Regions from separate parts of the Homo sapiens genome. Here region 1 is linked to region 2. Evidence: fine-mapped expression QTL. Tissue or cell type: unexposed skin. Region 2 holds a variant in brackets; the other region holds the start of a gene. All regions are shown on one strand. Distances are from middle to middle. Region 1 holds the start of TMEM132B (transmembrane protein 132B). Region 2 has its middle 20 kb from the start of TMEM132B.

Region 1 (8,324 bases), 21 kb before region 2:
GTCACCATCACCACCACCCCTTCCCCATCACCATCGCCACCCCTTCCCCATCACCATCACCACCCCTTCCCCACCACCACCACCACCCCTTCCCCGTCACCATCACCACCCCTTCCCATCACCATCACCACCCCTTCCCCATCACCATCACCATCACCACCACCACCCCTTCCCCATCACCACCCCTTCCCCGTCACCATCACCACCCCTTCCCCATCACCACCACCACCCCTTCCCCATCACCATCACCACCCCTTCCCCATCACCATCACCACCCCTTCCCCATCACCACCCTTCCCCATCACCATCACCACCCCTTCCCCATCACCATCACCACCCCTTCCCATCAACATCACCACCCCTTCCCATCACCACCCTTCCCCATCACCATCACCACCCCTTGCCATCACCATCACCACCCCTTCCCCATCACCATCACCACCCCTTCCCCATCACCACCCCTTCCCCATCACCATCGCCACCCCTTCCCCATCACCATCACCATCACTATCACCATCACCACCCCTTCCCCATCATCACCATCATCACCCCTTCCCTATCACCATCACTATCACCATCACCATCACCATCACCACCCCTTCCCCATCACCATCACCACCCCTTCCCATCACCATCACCACCCCTTCCCACCACCACCCCTTTCCCATCCCCATCACCACCCCTTCCCATCACCATCACCACCTCTTCCCATCACCACCCCTTTCCCATCCCCATCACCACCCCTTTCCCATCACCATCACCACTAAGACTTGCTCTCTAACTTTCGGATTTGACACTGGCTGTCTTGGCCAGGCCAGGCGGCTGTCATTCTCATGACCTTGGGATCCTTGTATGGAGTCACAGTTCCCTAAAGGACTGTATGGTAGAACTCCTCTACCAGAAGAGCTCCCAGGTACAGGGTTAGAAAGTCATAGGTGAGGAGTTAAGGAGAGGGGAGCCCAGGCCTCCAATTCACTGTGTGACCCTGAACAGGCGGTCCCTGTGCCCAAGTCTCCTTCCCATCTGCCGGGGGCTGCTGAAGGAGGGGCTCTGAGGCACCCTCTTGCTCTAGAAGTCAACCCACCTACTCTGCTGAAGAGTTGGCAGCACCCCCGTCACCCACGGTACCAGGGTGCCTCCATCTCGCCACAGTGATTGCTGAGTCCCATGGCTTCAGGGGAAATGGACCCCCTCCATCCCCATTCAAATTGAGACACAGAAGAGAAGAAAGGAGCCACCCAGCCACATAGAGCTGGGAGACGCATCTGGGAACAAGGCCCCTGAAAGGGCTTTGCCGGCCCAGAGACCACCCCCACCCCAGACTCCCAGCCAACAAATGAGGGTTTTCTTTTGCTCCCTTGGATCAAGGCAACCACCGTGCTCATTGTTGGCTCTGAGTGCAGTAGCTCATGCAGAAGCCCCACGCCTCCCCAACTCCCTGCATCCGGTGGGAGGAGAGGGGATGAAATGATTTACTCTGGGAACCTCCACTGTGCAGCCATTAAATCACTGGAGAAGGCGACGACATTTGCATACCACTCCCCACCACTTCCCAATGCCACCTCTCTGAAGGGCAGCGCCACACACAGGCACCCCCCCCATCACTATTGTAATGAGAAATATACCACATGCCACACCAAGGTGCCAGGCAGGAGGAAGAGAGCCTCTGCCCTGAAAGCCAAAGCTCCCCCCTGCCACTCAATGTGGCCCCTCTGTCGTGGGGCAGGTGGGGGTGCTCCACCCACCCTGATTTCATAGACCCTAGACCCCCGTGCATAATGAGTCAACGAAGCAAGATTCGTTCATTTTCCTCAGCAGGGACTGTAACTGCACCGCTAATTTGCAAAGCCACAGCATGTACAAAAGTGGCTCGAATAATAGGGGCCCCCTAGTCGCTAAGCTGGGGGATTTGTGCTGACTCTTACCAAGTACAGTTCCATATGTTTAAGCACTTGCAAGGCTGAAAGAAGTACACCCACCCTACTCTTTACCATGGCAGCTACCCACGCAGGAAGGGGGGTGGGGGACAAAGAAGCCAGTCCCTGCGTGTGTGTGATGGGAGACAGTGTGCGCATCTTTGCCTCTGAACTCTTCCAGCCCCTCTTCCAGAGCCTCAGCCAAAGGGGGTCGGTAAACCATGGCAGAAATCACCCAGAAAATCCAACCAGCCCTGAAGGAAGCTCTGGTTAATTCCTCTGAACCTCTCAAAACCAAGTGTAGGCAGCTAAGTATCTTTCAGGAATTTCTTTTTTTCTTTTTTTTTTTTTTTTTTTTTGCCATCCCTCCTAACTAGTGCTAAATATAGAGTTATCAAACTGTCGTCTCTTTATGTCCCTGGTAGGGACCAGTTAAAGACTTGCATGTGCTTCCAGGGACGGGGCGATGGCACTGGGGGCTCTGCCCGGACGGCATTTGTCGGAACGAGCTGCCCTGCTGAGACTCTCCCAAAGAACAGCAGGGGAGCAGGCAAAGAGCCGGCCAGCAGCAGGTTTCAGTGGGAGCTCACCTTCCCTCCCAACATGGGGCCTTCCAGAGCCAGGCACAGGCTCTTCTGTTGCTGGGGGAGAGGGCGGGGGACGGGGGTGGGGGGGTGGTAGGGGGACCATCCTATTCTCTTACAAAGCATTATGCAGGCAGCTTCTCTGAGAGACTTCCGATATTCACTTATAAGCACATCCAGGCAAATGCTGACCCCCGTGGAGAAACAAAATAGAGACAAAACTGCAATTTTCAAGTCCGAGGGACTGCACTTTTGCAAACAGGTCCCAGGGCTTCAGCTAAGAGAAAACAGCCTCGGCCCCAGCAGCAGCCCCTCTCGTGGACCGCAGAGGAATGCCGAAAGCAAAACAGCTATCATAGCTGCTCCTTAGCCAAGCAGGCAAGATTCATCCACGTTAAGCCCAATGCCATTCTCTAGGCTGAACCAAAGCCGAACGCTGACGGAGATCTCCAATAGAAGGTTTTCTTCAAGTCGAAGGTGTTGGTAAATATTTTGGGTCACTTAAGGGCATCTCAAAGGAAGCCGACACTGACTTTTTCCATGCAAATAAAATACATCGAACATCAAGTTGACATGCCAGGTTTGCTCCTAACTGCAACCTTACCAAGACAGTGAAAGCCGAAAAGTTATAGTTGTATTTTTCTACTGCATTCTGCCTGTCTGTGCGATTTGTTTGTTAAGGAAATGGGGAGAGATTTTCTAAAGCAAAAGCTACCTGTTCCCAAATCATGGGTCTTGATTTTAAAAGGTTTGGAGAACTGAGATTTCAAAAGCACATGAAGGCTGCTCGTGACTGTTCCCGGGGTTCATCTGAGCCTTTAGGATTTTCTCCACTGCTTGCATGGGGTGGGGGGAGGGGAGGAATTGTCATTTTAGGATACGCTTTCTATAGAACCAACATGTAGCCACACCAAGGTGGGTAGAAAGCTTTCCAAACTCCAGCGAAGACAGACAATACCTGACTATTTTGCTTTTCCCACTCACTAGGATTGGGCGACAGCTGAGCTGGTTCAGCAGGGAGTCCAGCTCCCCGGTGCCCAGGCAATGGCTCTGGACAGCACCGCGTTCCAGGCTCCCCGGCGCGTCCTGGACTGCTTGGCCGCGGCTACCCTCTCCCGCCCGCCTTGGGGTCAGGGCGCTGGAGTAGACCGCGTTTGCAGGAGGCGCGCAGCGGGCTGCTCTTTGGCCAAGAGGAGGCCATTTGGCGAGGGTGGGTAGCTTGGGGAGGGCAGTGTGAAAGCAGGGGAGGGCCGCGGGGCGTGGGGAGGGGCTGCGGACAAGCCAGACAGCGCCGGCCGAGACATCTCCGGGGCCCGCAGGTGTCCCGGGAACGCACCACTGTGCGACCGCGGGCAGCAAGACACTGGAGAAGGGCTGCGTCGACGCCCCCGCCCAGCAAAACCCCTGGAGGAACTGGGACCTGGGGGGGATTTGGCCCAAGGCAGGGCGGGGAGGGGGCTCGATTCCTGCAGTCGCGTCCCCACCCGCCTCGAGAGGCTGAGTGCCCCGGTCTGTGGCCCCCGTGCGTCCCGAAAGGATCCGCAAGGAAGCTAAGGGTTTGGGGGAGAAGGCAGGCGGGCTCTCCCCAGGCGCTAGGCAAAGGGGAACGCGCCGGGGGCTCCTGGGTTCCCAGGGTCTCCCCAGGTCTGTCCAAGTCCGGGAGATGCGCGCTGCCAGGGACTTGAGAAGGAGGTAGCCGCCCGTTCACCCAACTTTGTGCGCCTCGGCCGGGGTCGGGGATGGGGTCCGGGGACGCGTTACCTGGGCACTGGAGCGCAGTCAGCGCCAGCAGGAGCCCGAGCGGCGGCGCCCGGCCCGGGGGCGGCATGGTCCTCGGCGCGCGGTGGGTGCGGCGCGGGGCTGCTCCTCTCGCGCGCCCGGCCCGGCCCGCGGCTCCCGGAGCAGCCCCCGGCGGCTACGCCCGGGCGCCGGGCATGGCTCGCTCCCAGCGCGCCGCTCCTCCCCAGACGCATGCGCCGGCGCTGGCGGCGCTTCCTCGGCTGCGCCTCTGCGCGCTCTCCTGGGCTCGGCCGTGCGTGGCTGGGGAGCTGGGGCGGCCGAGGCTCAGCGCCCCGCGCCCTGGCCGGCTGCCCCGCAGTTGGCCCGAGTTGCGCGGCCCCCGCCGCCGCCGCCGCCGCGGCTCCTGCGCCCCAGCGCCCGTCCCATCCCGGTCGCGCCGCCGCCGCCGCCGCCGCCTCTGCCATCGCCATCTGCCGGCCGCCCCTCGAGCCAGCGAGAGAGTGAGCGAGCGAGCGAGCGCCGGGGGGAGGAGGAGGAGGAGGAGGAGTAGGAGGAGGAGGAGGAGGAGAGGAGCGGAGGGCGGGGCCGCGGCCGGGGGAGGGGCCGCCCGGGAGCCGGGGCACAGGCGGCAGCCCGGCCAGTAGGCGGCGGGACGCGCCACTGCTCGGCGGTTCGGGGGAGGGCGCCCGGCCGGGAGGCTCCGGGAGCCCGCCGGGGGTCGCGGGCGCTCGCGGGTACAGGGGCTGCGGGAGGGGTGCGCAATGCAGAGAGGGGATGCCCAGCTAGATCCGGCGTCTTGGGGCGCAGCGGTAGGAGTTGCCAAGGTCGAGGGGTGAGGAGGCCAGCGGAGGGTCACCGGGATGGGGCAGCGACCTCTGGAGAGGTGGTGTCTGCCGGGGCCAGAGACTGCAAGACTGAGCGCGGACAGGAGGTCCCGGGTTAAATGTGGCACAGCTAGGGAGTGCCTGTGGGAGAGGGGAGAGGAGAGAGGGGAGGGCCTCCGGGAGGCCGAGGCTGTGTGCAGAGCCTCTGCACGGCACCGGGATGGGGGCTAGGGGTGCGCAGGCTGGGTGCGGTGACCTGAAACACAGCGAAGGCGGCCTGGGGATGGCCACCCGGGTGAGGCAGGGTCCCTTATTTACCCAGGCTAGAGGATGCGCCTTCCCATTTCGCGCAGGCCCTAGGAGCACGCGGAGGCAGCCAGGAGTTCTCCTGGGAAGGGCAGATTCCCTGGCGGTCCCGGGAATGAGTTCCCAGCGCAGGGTCAGGCAGTGACGGAGCGGAGGTGTTGCGCAGGGCCGGGTACTAGGTGGTCGAATTCTTCCATCCAGGGGCAGGGACGCAGCCAGAGTGCGGAGGGAGGTCACAGGTCACACGGAGCCCCAGTACCTATTATCCCAGAAACCACTGATCCTCCTGGGCGCCCCACCCCCAACCAGGGCAAAGCCACGGGGGGCTAAGCCGAATGAATGAGTCATGCTGGGAGCATGTGGGGGAGCCTCCAGCAGCGCTCAGATGCCTTCAAGCTTCCCCACCACGCTGGGAGGACAGGGGATATGGGGGGTTGCCCACCTGGGAGGGTGGCTTGGAGTCCTGGCTCCGCCCCAGCCCCCACCACACCAGCCACTTGCTCTGCCATCTCAGTTTTCCATGAAAAAGTGGGTCAAACTCTTTGAAAATGGTCAATAAGGCAGCGTGGGGTGATGAAAAGACAGATTTGGGGAAGGCTCTGGAGTCATGGAGTCTTGGCTGAGAATCCCAGCTCTGCCGCTCCTTAGCTGTGCAAGCTGGGGCGAGTCCCTTATTCCTCCCTGAGCCTCAGTTTTCTCATCTGAGAGATGGAAGGCATTGCACATCACCTGGTGTCCCCAATAACACATACAAAGCCCCTGACCTAGGAAGTCGGAACTCATTTAAAGGAGTCAGTGTCAACATTATCATTCTCATCATCATGGCCATTATTATGATAGATCTGATTTTCCTCTGCGGGCCCAGAGCTCACATCAGAAGGACAATCCTCCCCACTCCCGGCTGCCAAGAGGGGATGGGGGACAGGGCACCTGCTTGATTAGTACAGACAAGCTCATTAGCAGAGGCAGCACTCAGTTCTTCCTAGATAAAAGAAGGAAGAAAGCCAGGGGCAGGTGGTGAGTCTCCAGCCCAGGTTAATTAGGAGACGTAAAGGGATTTTCCCGTGGCTGTTAATCGGCTTCCTTTACAAGGGGCCCATGCCCAGGCCAAGCCCCCTTTGGGCTCCCTGGCAAGGCCTGCAATGTGTGGAGAGCCATACAACAGGCTGGACGACGGGATTGGGGGTCTCCTCGGGCTTAGGGTGGCCTTGCGAGGGGCCCATCTGTCCCCTTTCTGTGACCCTTTCCCCAGATAAGAGGATGATCCTGGAGACGTGGTCAGGACTCTCTTAGGGTCCTCTGTGCCCGGCTGCCCCCAACACCTCTTTCCTGTTCACTTGTTCATAAGCATCTGCAGAGCTGAGCACCTACTGTGTGCCGGCCTCTGCAGGGGATGGTGAAGCAGAAATGAATGGACGACAGCAGGGGAGAGCCACAGCAGGAGTGACCGCGGGGTGCTGGTGCCAAGGTGAACCGTGTGTTTGACCAGGAAGCAGGTCAGTGAGGCTGGGAGACTGTGGCCAAAGATAAAAGTCATTTTCTGGCAGGGTAAGGGGTCATTCTGTGGCTTTAGTGGCGGTGCTTGGAGAGGGTTGTGAATCAGTCCAGCAAGTCCCCAAGCCAGTGGTCACACAGTCCCAGGTGTGATGGCAGATGGCAGTTGCCTTCCCCCCAACCCCACACTCAGGACTACCTGGTCATACTCCAAGAAAGCACCTTTCAGTGGGGAAGGGCACTTCCCCATTAAAATATGCTGATGGTGGTTGAGCCAGACGCTGAAGAGAGGAATCTCCTTTTGAGGGTAGCTTTTCCATGCCCCAGCTGTGTGACTCTGGACAAGCCCCTAATCCTCTCTGAGCTCATACGTGGGGTAGGGATGAGAATTCCAGCCTGGCTCAGCCTGTCTTGTGGTTGGATGAGGATTTCTGCATATTAACCATGCCCCTAAGCCTGTATCTCTAAAGGGGGTGTTTCTGGAGGAAATAAGCAGGGGAAAAAAGCCTCCCTGGATTCTGAAGGGCGGGGGGGAATCTGAGAGGCTGGCGGCAGTAACGAGGAGACCCCAGGGCTGAGCGGAATTCTCCTCTCACTCCTACCTAGACTCTCGCCCCCAGCCTGCTGGCCTCATAGCCTGGGCAGGACCGTAAGAATTACACAGCCTACAATCTCCCCCTAAGTATAGATGGGATACTGAGTCCAGGAATTGTCCTTCTCCTGGATCTGTAAGTGTGGGGAGGCCGACTCGACTAACAGCCAGCCTCGAGCCCCAGCATAGCCATGCAAGGCTTCCTCAGGCCGCACCACCCCCTGCACAGCAAGAGACTGCCTCCAGCACGGATTGCTCCCGGTCCGTCCCCGCACCCCAGTTCTGCTGCAGCTCAGCCCACGCGCCCGCCGGGCTACCGGCGAAGAGCAACATTGCCATCTCGTGGCTGAAACTGGAACTGCAGGTCTGGAGGGCGCTGCAGAAGGAAGGTCAGGGTGGGGGTGCGGGTAGGGGTGAGATGGAGGCGAATAGGCAGAGAGGTTTCCCCACCTCAGCCAACTGGCAGCGGCAATAACAGACCCCTTTGCCCTTGAACGCCAACACGCAGGCAGCTGCTGCCGTGGTGACCACCCGTTGAAATTCTTTGCAAAGCCTGGGACTGTTTGTTGTCCATTGCACACATCGATGTTTCTGGCATGTTCAGGGAACACAGAATTGACTTAGATTGCATTTGCACCACAGGTGAGTGGTAGGGGAAAGGGGCCTCTCAAAATAGAAGCCAAGCTCACTTATACAGGTAATCAAGGATTTACTAAGAATAAAGAATTTCAAGAAATCAGTTACTTGCACACCTGGACATATGGACCCATGATGGAAGGAAGGAGCCTCTTTATGGCAACTTGCAGTCATCCATATCACTCTCTGTCCCCTCCCCTGCTTTGTTCTTCTTCGTAACAGTGGCTACCAC
Region 2 (8,324 bases):
CTCTACTGCTGCAGAAACTGTCTTTTCATCACTATTTCCCTGAGACTAGAACAGTTCCTGGCCCAGCACAGACACTCAGGAAATATCTGTTGACTGAATGACTGGAAAATTCCTTTGATCAGCCAGTGGTTGTTTTTATTTCTTCCATGGGGAATAAAAAAAGCACTGAAAAAAGGAATAATTCATAGAAAAATGAAAATCCTAAGCAATAGTGAGACATCCATTTGCATAATGACAAGCATCTGATTTTTAATATAATTCCACCTCCGAAGTGAAATGTTCGCTATTCAGATGCAGCCAGGCCCCATGAAAGGGCTCAGATACACAGGAGCAGCAGTTACAAGGGTGGGAGTCAAAATCCTCCAGCGGCTGCTTCCCCGCCATCCCAACAGTCTCAGCTGCTGCCATCTAGAACTTGCCAGCTATTCCCGACACTGTCAGCTGTCTAATCCAACACCCGTTCCCAACTTCTTTCTTTCTCCCTTGCCTCCTCGCTCTAGAAGGGGTGGGAAAGCTAAATACCCCCTGCCGCAGACTCTCTTGCAGTTCTACTTCTGTCCCGTGAGATGAAATAAAACAGTCTGGAGATCATCTGGGGATCTCTGCTGCTGGCTCTGAAGATGGAGGAGCCCAATGAGAAGACACGTAGGGGGCCTCTAGGAGCTAAAAGCAGCCCTGGCAGACAGCCAGCAAGGCTACCTAAAAAAAGAACAGCGGTGCCTGACCAGGACCTATCCCTTTTTCCTGCTTAAATGTAGCCTTGATGGCTGGAGTCACAGCAATCATTTTGTGACCATGAGGAGAAGGGCAAGAGAATCACAGAGATTTTTGGTCCTTATGTCACTAAGCAGCTTTATCATTACCCATAAATAACCACCTCTAGAATTCTTGGTATATGAGAAAAATAAATCCTAACTACTCCACAGTGGTGGGGTTTCCTGGTGTTTGCAAGCAAAAACATTTCTTGCTAATATGCTGACTGTATGGGTACAAACAGCTTCGCTTAAGTGAATGAAAACTGTCTTTTGCCCAAAGCAATTGCATACCCATTATCCAACCTCATCATGGCAATATCCCCTGAGAGTTTGCATGGGCAGACTTTATATCCCCCACGTTAGGCAAAAAATCTGAGATTCAGAGAGATTAAGTGACCTGCCCCAGCATCACACCATGCAATGAAACTTGAAACTCAGAACTAAAACCTGGGCCAGGCACAGGCATTCACGCCTGTTATCCCGGCACTTTGGGAGGCCAAGGTGGGAGGAAAACTTGAGCCCAGGAATTCAAGACCAGTCTGGACAATATAGTGAGACCCCATCTTTACAAAAAATATATAAAAATTAGCTGGGCATGATGGTGCATGCTTGTGGTCCCAGCTACCTATGAGGCTGAGGCAGAAGGATCACTTGAGCCCAAGAGGTTAAGGCTGCTGTGAGCTATATCATGCCACTGCACCCCAGCCTGGGTGGCAGAGCAAGATTTCGTCTCAATAAATAAATAAATACTAAAACCTGGACTTCCAAATTTCCAATGCAACTTACAGAGAGACAAGAACCCATAATATAAAACAAGATCCCTGGGGCAGCTCTAATAAACCTAAAAAGAAAAACTTTCGTTGTAAATTTCTGCTTTAGGCTAAGAGAAAACTGTCATAACCCACTTAGAAACCCAGGACCCAAGTATTCCAGTCTCGAAGTAGTGTTGTGGTCAATGAACACTGTCCCTCAGCCAAAAGGGAACTCCAACGTAACTTACGGTCCTTATTTGCATTTTTTTTTTTTTTTGAGATGGGGTCTTGCTCTGTCGCCCAGGCTAGAGTGCAGTGGTGCGATCTTGACTCACTGCAACCTCCGCCTCCCGGGTTCACGCCATTCTCCTGCCTTAGCCTCCCGAGTAGCTGGGACCAAAGGCGCCTGCCACCATGCCCGGCTAATTTTTTGTATTTTTAGTAGAGACGGGGTTTCACTGTGTTAGCCAGGATGGTCTCGATCTCCTGACCTCGTGATCCGCCCGCCTCGGCCTCCCAAAGTGCTGGGATTACAGGCCTGAGCCACCGCGCCCGGCCCCTTATTTGCATTTCTTGAATGCTATAAAGGCAACACATGGTCCACAGAAATATTTCTTAAAATTCTCCTCCCCTCCCTGATCCATGTCCTTCACACTCCATACCTCCTCTAATTTCTCCAAACTCTCCCCAAACCTCTCCTCCCAGCCTCTTGGGTCCTTCTTCCTGTTCCACTTGTCAATTTATTGTCACTCGGCTCCAAACCCATCCTTCTTTGCCATGTTTGGTGATCCTGGAGCTGACCCCTGGAAACATTTCTCCTTTGCCAGCTGGTAGAATGTTCGGCTTTGTCCGTAGAAGGCATGGGTTACACTGTGCAGCTATACAGCAGGAGAGCCAATCCACTCTGGGTTCCTGTCCTCCTCTCCTACTGCAAGCAGCTCTTCTACCAGCAGCTCTCAGGCCAGCTTCTGTGACCCTCTCAGGCCATGCTCTCCTCACTTGGTGGCCATTTCCACAGTAGCCTTGAGGGACCCTCAGCTACACTGTCCCCACCCAGTGGCCACTTCTGCAGGAGCTCCAGCCATCCCCTCAGGCCATCCTCGCCCCACCCAGCAAGCAGCTTCAACCAACCACCTTTGACTCTGCCCTTGAACCATGCTCTCCCCACCTGGTGGGCATTTCTTAGAGAACAGCTGTGGCCACTCACATGCTCTGGCAATAGCAGATGGTGTATATGGACTAGCTGCAGGCTTCGTCGTCTGACAGTGTCCTCATCCAGCAAACTGCATGTTCTTGTAGTAGCTACATTCTCTTCGGAGAGGGCTGGTTCTTGGTCTCAGGGACTAGAATAGTTCTATATTCTTCACTTTCCATTTCCCCTCAGTCTAGAGGGAGTAATAACTTTTTTTTTTTTTTGAGACAGAGTCTCCCTCTGTTGCCCAGGCTAGAGCGCAGTGGTACAATCTCGGCTCACCGAAACCTCTGCCTCCCAGGTTCAAGCGATTCTCCTGCCTCAACCCCCCGAGTAGCTGGGACTACAGGCATGTGCCACCATACTCAGCTAGTTTTCATATTTTTAGTAGAGACGGGGTTTCACCATGTTGGCCAGGCTGGTCTCGAACTCCTGACCTTGTGATCCACCCGCCTCGGCCTCCCAAAGTGTTGGGATTGCAGGTGTGAGCCACCACACCTGGCAGTAGTAACTTTTTTATACCTAATATTTCTAGACCCCTTAGAGTCCTCTTTGACTCCATTAGTAAGTTAAGCACATCTTACTAGTTAATAATTCTTTTTTTGTTGTCTTGTCTTTTGTGTGTGTGTGTGTGTGTGTGTGTATGTGTGTGTGACAGTCTCTCTTTGTCACACAGGCTGGAGTGCAATGGTGCTATCTCGGCTCGCTGCAATCTCCGCCTCCCAGGTTCAAGCAATTCTCCTGCCTCAGCCTCCCCAGTAGCTGGGACTACAGACAGGTGCCACTACGCCCAGCTAATTTTTGTATTTTTAGTAGAGACGAGGTTTTGCCATGCTGGCCAGGCTGGTCTCAAACTCCTGACCTCAGGTGATTCACCTGCCTCGGCCTCCCAAAGTGCTGGGATTACAGGTGTGAGCCACCACACCTAGCCCTGTCGTCTTTTTTTTTTTTTTTTTTTTGAGACAGGGTCTTGCTCTGTCACCCAGGCTGGAGTGCAGTGGTGCTATCATAACTAACTGCATCCTCAGTCTCCTAGGCTCAAGCGATTCTCCCACCTCAGATTCCCAAGTATCTGAGACTACAGGCACGCATCACCATGCCCAACTGTTTTTTTATTTTTTGTAGAGACCCAAGCTGGTCTCAAACTCCTGGCTTCAAGTGATCCTCCCGCCTTGGCCTCCCAAAGTGCTGGGATTACATGTGTGAGCCACCATGCCCAGCAATAATTCTATATATTGGACTGTCCCAGTTCAAATTACCAATGTAGAATCAGTCAGGGTCTCCTGATTGGACCCTGGCTGATACAGAACTAGTTAAGAAAGTGGTTCTAGATACATACAGACCTCCAGGAGTGGGAGTTGGAGACTCGTCATGCCTTTGGAGTTGAGTGCCATGCTGGGATTTTGACCATGTGAAATGGGACACCAGTGACCCATAGCATGCAGTGCCATCACAGCGAATCAGCCACACCATCACCTGTGGTTGATTCTGACAAAGTGCTGACTGAAGCACATGCCTTGGGAAGGTAGGTGGCTGAGGCACTTGACATGATGCCCGTGACGATGCCCTCAAGGGCTGCAGTGTGGGATGGATGCTTCTGTGTGCACTGGAGCATCTACAGGAAAATAAAATAGAATCTCAGGTCCCTTAACTCATATCAAAGCACAGTCCTAGGGCCAAAGAGCTTCCCCGATGCCCTCAGTGAAAATTCTTATTTATTGTAGCCTGGCTTATTTACATTAGCCAGGGCTAGTGCTACTGAAAATAAAAAACACAATTGAATTGTGTGGGTTATGGAATTACACTAGGTGGATTCACAGCCTCACCACACTTCTCATGTGAAAGGTAGGACATTAAGGCCAGGCGCAGTGGCTCAGGCCTGTAAACCCAGCACTTTGGGAGACCAAGGCAGGTGGATCACCTGAGGTCAGGAGTTTGAGACCAGCCTGGCCAACATGGCGAAACCCCATCTCTACTAAAAATACAAAATTTAGCCAGGTGTGGTGGTGGGTGCCTGTAATCCCAGCTACTTGGGAGGCTGAGGCAGGAGAATCGCTTGAACCTGGGAGGCAGAGGTTGCAATGAGCCGAGATCATGCCATTGCACTCTAATCTAGGCCATAG[A/G]GCAAGACTCCATCTCAAAAAAAAAAAAAAAAGGTAGGACATTAAAAGGGATGCTGAAGCTTAGAATGGGGACATCTGGTGGGACTCAGATGAAACTGAGAATCTTGAACCCACAAGTCACTCTGAGCCTCTGTTGCCAAAGGAAGGAGCTTGCTCTGTTGTGTCTAAGGAGACTAGCTGTCCTTTTCTTGAAAACTGTATGACAATCTCACGTGAGGAGATGCCCATTCTCCTTCAGACCCACCACAACTACTACCTGTTGGCACCAGACTCATAAGTAGAATCTTAGATTTTTAGTACCCACTATGGCCTCAAATGAGATAGCTTTTACACCAAGAGAACTGCACGATTTTGCCAATATATATTGGCAGAAACCTAAGGAGTATGTGAGGGTGTCAGACCAAGGCAGGCAGAAGAACAGGAGCAGACTGAACTCACTGACCGAGGTGCACTAAGATTTTGGATATCATGGGTTAGTTTCCTTAGCTGGAGGTGGCTCTCAAAGCTTACTTGGTTGGTGGCTGGAACTAGGACTCCATGGTGGCCTAAGTTTAGTGAGCAGAGATGCCAGAGCTACCCTGGCATGCTATGGAGGAGGGAGTCCAAAGGCTTAGGGAGATTGGAGTGTTGAAAGGATTTACCATGGCAACCTGCACACCCACCCACCAACTACATCCCCCAGGAGACCCCAGAAAATGCTTTCTCTATGAAGGAGCTGAGAAATACATTCATGGGGGGAACACCTGCATCCTTAGAAGGTCTGTGGCTTTCTCCTTTATAGGCTAGGTATGATGGATCGGGGGTGTGCCCACCATTGATATGAGCTCCCAAGAGCAGAAGCCAAGAGGCAGTGCCCAACCTCCAGACGCAGTGCGAGCATACCCGCCATAAAGGACCGCACGACATGCCTGTGGTCAGCAAGCCCTGGCCTGTAGGAGGTTTGGCAAAGACTAACTGTCCCAAGATCCCTGCGACTGAAACAGATGAGAAGCCCGCCAGAGTATTGCTTGGGGACTCATTTCACAACAAAGGGAGTGGAGCAATGGGTTCAGGCCCATAGAATTAACCTCAAGGAGAAGGAAAAGAGTCAGAGGCACAGACGACAGGAGAGGCAAGAAACCAGCAGCCCCAGAGAAAGCAGCAAAGAGACAGCAGGTACTGTTGACTGTCCAGTTCCCAGGAGGCCAAGCTGTGTGTCCTGCCCTGGGGCCCCGTGTGAGACCCTGATAACCTCATGAGGCTGGGTGGTATCATGTGGGCTTTGTATTCTTTCCCCCTGTCTAGCAGATAATAGATCTGTGATTACTGGCTCAGGGCAGGGATGTGACTTTCACAAAAGCAGATACAAAAGCCTTTAAGTTTCATCCTTCTGTTTCTCTTTCTTTTTCTTTTTTTTTTTTTTTTGAAATAGAGTTTTGCTGTGTTGCCCAGGCTGGAGTGCAGTGGTGCGATCTCAGCTCACTGCAACCTCCACCTCCCTGGTTCAAGCAATTCTCCTGCCTCAGCCTCCTGGGTAGCTGGGATTACAGGCATGTACCACCACGCCCAGTTAATTTTTGTATTTTAGTAGAGACAGGTTTTCACCATGTTGGCCAGGCTGGTCTCGAACTCCTGACCTCAAATGATCCACCCGCCTCGGCACCCCAAAGTGCTGGGATTACAGGTGTGAGCCACCACGCTCAGCTTCCTTTTTTCTTTTTTCTTTTCTTTTTTTTTTTTTTGAGATGGAGTCTCACTCTGTTGCCCAGGCTGGAGTGAAGTGGCACGATCTCAGCTCACTGCAACCTCCGCCTCCCAGGTTCACGCCATTCTCCTGCCTCAGCCTCCCGAGTAGCTGGGACTACAGGCACCCGCCACCATGCGCGGCTTTTTTTATATTTTTAGTAGAGACGGGGTTTGACCATGTTAGCCAGGATGGTCTCGATCTCCTGACCTCATGATCTGCCCGCCTCGGCCCTGCAAAGTGCTGGGATTACAGGCGTGAGCCACCGCACCCAGCCTTCTTCTTTTTGTTTTTCAAAGACCCTAGCTCTTAGGTTCTGGAATCATAAAATGAAATGTCCATGGGAATCAGGCTAACTGCCGTATGTGAGTGAAATGGGGCCGGTGCAGGGCAATAGGGAGTGGACTAGACTGCAGTAAACTGGAGAGTGAACGCTCTGCTTCAAGACGTTCCAATTTAATCTTTTAAATACAACACTAGGGAACAGGTATAGGACTCCAGATTGACTGGGATTTTTTGAAATCACGGAGGAATCAGGGCTCAAAATAGAAATAAATCTGAGTGGTAGAAAAAGGAACGGGAATTGCTGCGGTAGACACCTGTCTTGTGTGTCCCCCTCCGTACGTTTGGAGAATCCCCCACTGTCTGAGTCTTCATGAGACACAGCAGCTGCCTCGCACAATAAATGCCAAATAATTTTAAAATAATAATGGTAGGCCGGGCACGGTAGCTCACGCCTGTAATCCCAGCACTTTGGGAGCCCAAGGCGGGCGGATCACGAGGTCAAGAGATCGAGACCATCCTAGCCAACATGGCGAAACCCTGTCTCTACTAAAAATACAAAAATTAGCTGGGCGTGGTGGCACCGCCTATAGTCCCAGCTACTCCAGAGGCTGAGGCAGGAGAATCGCTTGAACCCAGGAGGCGGAGGTTGCAGTGAGCCGAGAGCATGCCACTGCACTCCAGCCTGGCGACAGAGCGAGACTCCATCTCAAAATAATAATAATAATAATAATAATAATGGTAATAGCTAAAATTTAAAATGCTTACTCATCACCTCTTCTACACGCTTCACATATATTCTGTTATTTAGTTCACATAGCCCCCTCCCCCCACAGAGGTAGGCATGACTACACTATCCCCGTTTTGTAGATGAGCAAGCCGAGGCATGCATGGCGTCCAGGCTCACACAGATATGTGGCAGAGCCTGGATTCAAACCCAGTCTGGCTCCAGCATCCACGCACTTAATGCCTTGCCACCCCTCCAATGAGGGTATTAGCTTGTGACAGAGCTCGGCCAACCAGACTTGGAATCTGGAGCAATTGATCTGAAGAAGCAGAGACAGGGAGAAGCTATTCCGGTGTCAGCAACAATGTCGAATATCCAGGGACAGCAGGGCGGCGGTGATGATCAGCTCTGATGTTCTCTGGCTCTGTCGCCCATTGCCCGGCAGCAGTGGTAGCGACGGCCTCATCAGGCGAATTCCGTGGCATGCTTCCCTTTGTCTGCACGTCTTCTTTGGAGTCTATTTTTGCAGTTTCTCAACAACTCTGCGAGCTCTCCAGGTGTTGTTTCAATCAATTCCTTTTCCACTTGAGTCAGCTGGAGTCCGCCTTTGTTGCTCACACCCAGGTATCCCAACTGATGGGTCCCATTTGATGCACACCTGTGTCTGTGAACCCAGATCTGTGGCTGTGGCACTTACAATAAGCTCCCTTGTGACTCGAGCTTCTGTGGGAGGGATTCTGGTCTTTGCAGCTCTCCAGCCCTGGATTCGA

The links.
Region 1: it holds the start of TMEM132B, and the variant in region 2 is fine-mapped to the expression of TMEM132B in unexposed skin (GTEx, PIP 0.99). The same link has a PIP of 0.9 or more in lung and thyroid.

The regions. Positions count from the first base shown.
Region 1 is chr12:125,182,804-125,191,127 of GRCh38, reverse strand. It overlaps TMEM132B (transmembrane protein 132B), which reads right to left and starts at 4,742. Exons shown (of 9, transcript NM_001366854.1): 1 at 4,262-4,742. The coding sequence starts at 4,328. RefSeq lists a silencer at 4,750-4,959 and an enhancer at 5,008-5,541.
Region 2 is chr12:125,162,104-125,170,427 of GRCh38, reverse strand. No RefSeq gene overlaps it. Among named protein-coding and RNA genes, the nearest start is that of TMEM132B, 20 kb to the left of the region's middle. The variant A/G (reference allele first, on the strand shown) is at 4,823.